2 separate regions of the Homo sapiens genome follow, and region 1 is linked to region 2. The links come from fine-mapping of genetic effects on gene expression. A gene starts in region 2. The other region holds a variant in brackets. All regions are shown on one strand. Distances are between the middles of the regions. Region 1 overlaps SPAG16 (sperm associated antigen 16). Region 2 holds the start of SPAG16 (sperm associated antigen 16).

Region 1 (4,402 bases), 930 kb after region 2:
TAAGCTTGCTCCATCCCAGTTTTCCCTGACCAGAAAATGGCACTATTATTCCCCCAATATGATCAGAGTAAAATCATCTTTCCTTATACCCTACATTCCACCCATCAGCAAGTCCTGCTGGTTTTCCTTTGCCACAACCCCCAAAACTTCCCACTTCTCCTGGCCTCCAATTTACCACTCTAGTTTCGGGCTACTGTGACACTTGGTGCCTATTTGGTCTTCCACTTCATTCTTATCTTGCTAAAGCCGTTGTCCAGAGAGCAAAATATACTTGTAAAATATAAACCAAATTATGTATGTAATTTCTTAGCTTAAAATTCTCCAGTGAATTCACATTACATTTATTATAGAACAATATTTACTCTCTGTGGCCTGACAAGACATACTTGGTTTACCCCTCTCTAAATTCCTCCATTTCTCCCTCACTCTCTTGTTTCTGACTGTCTTGCTGTTCCTCAGACATGGCAAGCTTTCCCTGATTTTGTCTTTTATCTACCAGAACTGCTCATCACCCAGACCTACAAGTGATCCCTTCACTTATTTCTTTCAAGTTTTACTCAAGTATCACCGCCTCAGAGGTAACTTCCTTGACCTCCCTATGATATTAATTCCTCCTTCTCACCTCCCCGACCACCCACTCCCTGCATCCATCAATCTCTTTGCTTTCTTCCTTTTTGGTTCACAGAACTTGGCACTACCTGATACACGGGTTACATGTCCATTGTTTGACTCTTGTGAAGTGAAGGCTTCACAAGGGCTTCCACCGTGATTGTGCCCTGTATCTGTACCTAGTTGAGGACCACTATTTATATGCTAAGTTAGACCCCCATTGATTGGATAAAGTCAGGCTCCAGAAGGGCAGACTAAAGCCACCAAGCAAGGAACAAGAACTGGAAGAGCTTTTGTTTCCAGAATCACCCCAGCTAGCTCTACTCTTTCTATTTTTCATCCCTTCGATAGATGAACCAAAAAAGTCTTTCTTTTCTCTTCAGTTAGTTTGAATACAATTTCTGTCACTTGAGATTGAAAGATCCCTAACTAATAGCCAGTTGAAGATTCAGTTTCAGGACCTGAGGAATTTTAGAGGGAGAACTGTGAAATGCCACATCTCTGTGCACAGCACACTAGAACATGTAAGTCCACACAGCACAGACTCCTCACCTGCCCGTTAACCTCTGAAGGCACGGTGGGCCACCATTATTGTCAATATAATCAAAGAACTTTTTCCTCCCCTATTGAGTACTTTGTTCTTTGTGTGTTGTGTATTCCCGTCATCTGCTGCCTGAACAACTCAGACTCAGCTGCTTCTTATCCTTCTTGTCCTTTCCCTTACCCTTCCAGATTTGCAAATCATTCCAGAGTTGTGAAGGGAATTCTAATCTTTTAAAATTGATTTTCCCAGTTTCTCACACACACAGGGGAAGCAAATAATGCATGCACCATATTATGTATTAATACCTTTATTCCTAATCCAATCTTAAAGCAGACTGATTATCCACTTATCCCCACCCCTGAATTTTTTTATTCAAATGTTCATACAAAGCTGTCACTTATTCCTGAATGCCTGAATTTTAAGCAAAGCTGATGACTTCACAGAACTCCATACACATTGAGCACACTGAAACCACCTGTGCAACAACGCAAGGCAGTGTGAACAGGCAGGGAGCTGTGTCAAGGCCAGGGTCAGAGACCAGCTGCTAGAATTCTTCCCTGAACCCAAGGGAGCAAGCATAGGTTTTGTGGCAATCTTCTCAACTATAGCATTATTGTTGACATTTTGAGTTTAATATAATGTACAGGAGCTGTTCTGTGCATTGTGTGATGTTTAGCAGCATTCCTGGCCTCTACCAGCTACCCAGTGTGGCAACCAAATATTCCTCCAGATTTTGGAAACTGTCCCCTGGAATGTATGTGCTCAGAGAAGGATTGAGCCCAATTAAGAATCACATGTATTCAAAAAAAGAACTTGTGTGATAACTCAAAAAATCAATTCTATCTACTGGGTATACTACTATCTCCTCAAAATAGTCAGTAAGAGGTCCTGGGTAGGTGAAGGTGCTACCTCTGCTTTACAGTTGGACCATAAAGGTCATGGCCTTTATGAACCAATAAGTATCCATTAGAAGTAAAATTGTAGATGAGTGTGATCTGTTTATAAATTTGAAATTTTAAGGGATCTTATTTTCTTCATGGCCCCTTCATTTAAGGTGAAACTCTATTTATAGTGCCTTTTGTGATAGAACTCGGGCTCTCTTCTCAAACCTACATTCCCACTATTCCATCGCATGTGTCCTATACCCAGCCATATCAATATTTTTTTATTCTATGGAAACAATTTGCTTTCTTATATCTCCATGTCATTCATACATACTGTTCCCTCTGCCTAAAATATCCTTCCCAACCTTCCTTTTTACTTTTTTTTTTTTTGAGACAGAGTCACCCACGCTGGAATGCAGTGGCACAATCTGGCTCACTGCAACCTCCACCTCCCAGGTTCAAGTGATCCTTTTGCCTCAGCCTCCCAAGTAGCTGGGATTACAGGCATGTACCACCATGCCCGGCTAATTTTTGTATTTTTAACAGAGACAGGATTTCACCATGTTGG[C/T]CAGGCTGGTCTCAAACTCCTGACTTCAGGTGATCTGCCTCCCTTGGCCTCCCAATATGCCCAGTCTTCCATATTTTCTTTGATATGTTACTTCTTATGATACTGAAAACTTCCCTTAATTCCTGTTCCTTCCTGGCATTCTCTATTCCAGGCCTGTAGGTTTGTCTCCTCTCTGATTCACCTATTCCAATGCCTATTCTTATAAATATCAGTTGAGTTTCTTACCCATCTCCAAATGATGTACTTGAGAGCCACATCATTTTATTTAGGCAGATCTAAATTTTGTGGGTACAGAAGTTTATGCAATCTGGGATGCCCTCTTTATAAAAAAAGAATATAATATTATTAATATAAAATTAGGTATATTTATTTAGAACTGGGAAAGAAATCACAACAAATGCCTGGAAATTTAAAGACTCAAACTCCCTTGTCAATTTACCAGAAATGCTTACATAGAAATATTTCCTAATAGGAACCTGGCTTTTTCTACCATCTAGAATGCTCTGCAGCTGTCAGTATCTCACAGCAACCTGTGCAGTTGAGGGTCACCAGAGCCTAAGGTTCATTACATTTATGGCAAATCTGCCTTTAAAAAACGTATCTCTGCATCTCCAAGGCCCAGTACAATGGTTATATGGTAGAAGGTACTTCATAAATGTTAGTGATGACAATATTAAATTTTATTTAAAGGTTAAGAAATTCCATCACTCTTTTGTTCCAGAAAAAGACATTGCCAGAAACCACCTTTCTCAATATGACTTAGACAAGACTCATAGATGACCCCCTTGTTCACATAAGGCAAGGCCAGACACAGACCCTCCAAATTCCCATTCTTTGCCTCAGAAATGACTAATGGAACTGCTTGTCCCAACTGATCAGCTGGAACAAAATGACTGTTAACCAACCTTCCTCAAGATCCCTGACCTCTGGCTCACCTCCAGGTGAGCCAGCATTCAGCTCCTCCCAAGAATAGAATAGACTGGCCTCACGGAAGATATTCTCCAACCTACCAGCCTATCAGGCCACCTTTGATTCCATTTCCCCACACTGCTTCTTTCTTGCTTTGTTTACTCCTCCCTTCAGAAGCTTGTAGACCTTATGGTCACCTCCTTCTCCCCAGTGCAACATTATCTTTCCCCAGCCTTCTAGGAAGTCTCTTGCCACAGACTTTCAAATAAAGTCTCTCCTTACTAAGTCTGAACTTGCTTTTTATGTGACAGTGAAATTACTGAAGAAAATAAGTGATGAATGACTGAGTGTGAACTCTTGTCAAGCAACAAGTGTTCTTTGTAACTCTTTCCCGTACTGTTGCAATGATAATGCTATTGCTTTCCTACTGAGCCTATGTGGTCTCTCTTTTGACCTCTGTTCCTTCTGCCAGTTGCAATACACTCCTCTGTCAACCATTACTATAAGCTTAATCTGTCAATATTGTCAAACAGTTCTGACCTCTACCTTGATTTTGGCTTAAATCCCACCTTTGTTATAATTCAGTCTAGATCCTAATCCATTCAGACTTTTTCCTGCCTTAGTTCCAAGAAAACATGACTCTGTTTCTAAATCAAAATAGAGTATGTGAGTTAGCTTTGAAAAGGCCTGATAGATACCCATTGCAAAAAGTTAGTGAAAGGCCATTCTGGTTGCAAACAATTGCATGTAAAGTCTTGGAGGCAGGAATTTGAAATTCATGCCTCAGGACAATAAAATTAGCCAAGTTTTATTTTAAATTGGTAGAATAATGACAGAAGGTTGGAGAAAGCATTTTATGAATGGATATTGATTGGGATTGAAAATTAT
Region 2 (4,402 bases):
TTCCAAATATAATATCTAATTTAAGCTTGCATATTCATTCAATATTTTAAGCACATTTTATTAACGATTATTTACTGAAAACATTTGATATACCAGACATGGTTATAAGTGCTTTCTACATATTTCGTTTAGTCTTCATACTTTAGTAAGGTAGGTACTAAAATCTCCGGTTTACAGAACAGGAAACTAAGGCTCAGAGAACTTAATTAAGGTCATACAGAAGAGGCAGGAGACAAACATCTGTAGAAGATCACACACTACATCTAAAAAGTCAGAAATAGATGAGCCATTGTAACGAACAAAAACAAATAAAAGTAAACAGTAATCGCTCTGAGAGACCATCCTTCATGTCTTTTGTGTTCCTACATGTCTTGCTGGATATGCCAAAAATGTAAGGCCTTGACCACTCCTTACCCAGGTCATTTGTTAAGGCTGGATTTATAGGAAACAACCTTGAGAGATAAGGTAATGCCTTCTTCTGAAATAAAGAGAAAGCTTTCTGTAAAAGCAGTGGATTCTCCAATGTCAGAATTCTTCTGTATTTTCAGCCTCCTGTAATTGTTCCTTGCATTTAATGAGTACTCAGGAAATGTCTGATGTGAGAAGTCAAGGACAAAGAGTAGGGTAGTAAAAGAATAGGTACCAGGAATGAATTACCCGACTATTATATCTGTGACCCTTGATTATTCTAAAAAATAAAACAATATCAAACACATTTAATAGAAATAACAGCTAACATTTCTTAGTGTCTTCTATGTTCCCAGTAAGTTCTTAATGCTTTTTGTTGCTTTACCCCTTGCAACAGCACTTTGAGGTAGGTAATATTGTTGTCTTTGTTCTACAAATGATGAAACTGGGGCCTAGAGGCATTAAGTAGTAGTTTGCCCAATGTGTCATAGCTAGTAAGTGATGGAAGCAGGCTCTGAAAGCTGTCTCTCTGGCTCTGACACACGTACTCTCAAACACCTCCTTAGGAAGTTACTGCTACCTTTTGGTAATAAATGGGAGCTTTTATAGGATCACTGGCTTCCAGTTTTCACCAAGAAATGTAGAATGAAAAATAATACCATTTGCCCTAGCAATCCCATTACTGGGTATATACCCAAAGAAACAGAAATTGTTCTACCATAAAAACACATGTACATGCGTGTTCATTGATATTCATGATAAAGACATGGATTCAACCTAAATGCCCATCAACGGACTGGATAAAGAAAATGTGGTACACATATACCATGGAATACTATGCAGCCACAGAAGAATGAGATCATGTCCTCTCAGGGACATGAATGCAGCTGGAGGCCATTATCCTTAGCAAACTAATGCAGGAACAGAAAACCAAATACTGCATGTTCTTAGTTGTAAGTGGGAGCTAAATAATGAGAACAAATGGACACAAAGAAGGAACAACAGACACTGGGGCCTACTTGAGGAGGAGAGTGGGAGGAGGGAGAAGATCAGAAAAAATAACTATTGGGTACTACACTTAGTACCTGGGTGACGAAATAAGTTATATACCAAACCCCTGCGACATGAGCTTACCTGCACTTGTACCCCTGAACCTAAAATAAAAGTTAAGGGAAAAAAAAATATTTGCAAAGAAAAGGGCCTTGAATTTGCTTCTGATACATACGCGATATAACCTGAGGAAGATCCTCTCAGCAATAAGACTATACATGATGGGGCAAGTGTCAACTGCATACATTTGTCAGGACCAAATTTGTAGCTCATAATTTTTATGCAACTGTTTTTACCTTGGCGAGAATCAATGCTACAAATACTATTCCAAGTCTTAGTATATGGAACCAAACTCAAAACAGATGTCCAGCTAAATGCATTAAAGATCACAAGAAAGGAATTGACAAAGCTGAACACCATAGTTCTTCATTGCTAAGCATCTGAGGAGCGTCTGGTAGCTCCCCTGGGTCAGTCTTTCTATTATGATTTCTAGAACTTTATTTTTTCATTTTTTAAAAAATTCCAGGTGTTGAGAACTCACCTTTTCTAGTAGTTTTCCCTGGGAACACTTGGGGATCTACAAACATCTGAAATTGGAGGATGCTAATGGGCAAGAATCAAGAGAAAGGTAATTCAGAGACGACAACGAAGTGGGAAAGAAATTACAGGGTCAAAGCGAAAGAAAACCAAGCTGCTTGGGTAGGAAGGTGCAATGCAAGCCAATTGTTTACTGTATCTTGTCCGCTCCCAGAGCTGCGCCCGAGCTCTCGCGTTAACTAGGCAACATCGTTGCCACGGTAACTGGGAGGCGCGGGAGGGCGACAGCTCCCTGGACTCCCGGTAACCCTTACGTGCCCGGGGCTGGTCCGTGGGGCGGGGTGAGAGATGCCGGAATCTCGCGAGAGCTCCCGGGGGCCGTTGGGTAGCGTCTTCGCTGTTGCCCTTAGGGACGGCTGTGGGCCTGCTGGGGGTGGGGGCCCGAAGCGCCAGAGATGGCTGCTCAGCGAGGGATGCCCAGCTCCGCCGTGAGGGTCCTGGAAGAGGCGTTGGGCATGGGTTTGACGGCAGCCGGGGACGCGAGGGACACGGCGGACGCGGTGGCGGCTGAGGGCGCCTACTACCTGGAACGTATCCTTCCCGTGGAGGCGCGGCCCGCTGCGCTGGCGGGTAATGGGTGTTGGGACGAAGGCGAGGGCCTCCCACTGGCGGCGCCTTTTGAGCCTTGGGGCCACTCCGGAGGAGCCTCTGTTGGACTTCAAGGTGCTGTTTTTGCCACCACAGTCTTCCTGAGAGCCACTCACTGAATTTCTCGCCCTTAGTAGCCCAGGGTGTCCTGTACCTGTTAGAAGAGTTGGGAGACCTTCCAAGGCCTCATACTTAGTAACCACTCAGTACATTTTGGATGGAGGGTTGCTTTTTATGTTAAGACAGCACAACAAATTGCTTCAACCCTCCTTTCAAATAATGGGTTTCCTAAATAAGCCCTCAATCTTTCAGAAAGCCGTCCCAATAAATTCAACGGAGGAACGTTAGGAGACTAGGGAAAGACCTCTGCCATTGGACTTTAAGGAGCTGAAGCTCAGAATACCCAACCCACGATCCTGTTCGATGGTCCAGTTAATGCTTAAATGCTTAGTTTTGATAGCATTATCTTCCTGAGTAGTTCCAAGTTTGACTACTTAATAATAAATACTAATAGTATAGTTGCTTTTTTTTCTTGAGCAAATAAATAATGATCTGGTGAGCTACACAGCTCAGAGATATTAGGAATAAAGCAGATGGTGATTAGCGATTTTTATCGGAAGTACCAGAAAAATTGAATAACAATGTGTGGATAATTAGGTCCACTATTTCTTGTGTAAGGCTTTAGAACTTCTTTCCTCTAGTTATATAGATTAATTCCTACTAGGGAGACGGGGAGGGTTCATGAGAAAAAGACATGTAACTCCTTTATTCAGGGAGGTAAGAAAGAGATGATTATCTGTTCAGTTCTTAAAGATACCAAGGAAACTCCAAAATCTGCCAAATCTTATTTGTTTGTCCAACTGTAATCCTCTCCAGGTTTAATTCAAGATTTCAGAAATCCAGCAATGATTCATTTCGTGAGCTTTGACAAGCCGATTAACCTGTCCTGACTCAGGCTCAGTACACATCCACACTACAGAGAGCTTTGAAGAATTTAGCTGAAAGATTAAAGAAAATATGTAGTATTTTATTGGGTGCAAAAACGACTTTTACAGGAATAGAAATTTGAATCGCTTGAAATGAATTTGAAAGAAATATATGGGTGCTTTAGTGTCATAAATGAGGTTTTATACTGTTTTCGTAGATGTAACAGGCAGTCTTTTCCAGTGATATTCCTCTTTAACAACGATTTTCATAATTCTTCCTAAGCTTATCTATATCCAGTGCCCTTGCTACTGAATGGTAACCAGGCATCTTGTAATTTTGTTTGCATTAAAATTATTTCCGTGAACACATAGTTTAATTGTTAACATGAGATTGACACAATGAGGTAACTTTTTGCAAACATCTTTGTGAAATAAATGGTAGGAGTCTAACATAACACAACTTTCAGCAATGAAAATCAGGTTTACTTAATGTGCAGGGAGATCACTGAGTCACACCTGCCAAGATGTAGCAGTTTGCAAACCTGTCTTACAAAGACTTTTTCAAATAATCACACTTATTTGAACTTTAACACATATAAGCAACTGTAACTTTTTAGGATTTTACTAACCGTTGTGTGAATTATCCAACCCATTTGCTTTTCTTCTTTCTTTGGTTGACTGACTGCTATTTTGTATTTTAACCAAATGGTAGTCAGGGGATACACAGTTAAACATTTAACCAGTTTATTTTGCTATATTCCATGCTGAGGGAAGAGGTTTAGTCATTTCAACTCTCAGTTGAAATGAAGTTTGAGGATTACTTGTGAATACCA

Evidence for each region. PIP is the estimated chance that this variant, and not a neighbour inherited with it, causes the effect. A credible set is the group of variants that fine-mapping cannot tell apart.
Region 1: its variant is the best candidate, but not a certain one, in a credible set for the expression of SPAG16 in testis (GTEx, PIP 0.50).

Annotation. Positions count from the first base shown.
Region 1 is chr2:214,211,772-214,216,173 of GRCh38, forward strand. All of the region lies in intron 15 of SPAG16 (sperm associated antigen 16), which reads left to right. Among named protein-coding and RNA genes, the nearest start is that of VWC2L, 200 kb to the right of the region's middle. The variant C/T (reference allele first, on the strand shown) is at 2,606.
Region 2 is chr2:213,282,034-213,286,435 of GRCh38, forward strand. SPAG16 (sperm associated antigen 16) reads left to right here and starts at 2,431. Exons shown (of 16, transcript NM_024532.5): 1 at 2,431-2,586. The coding sequence starts at 2,451. It overlaps SPAG16-DT (SPAG16 divergent transcript), which reads right to left and starts at 2,176. Exons shown (of 3, transcript NR_161186.1): 1 at 2,000-2,176. RefSeq lists enhancers at 2,464-2,593, 2,634-2,683, 2,754-2,833.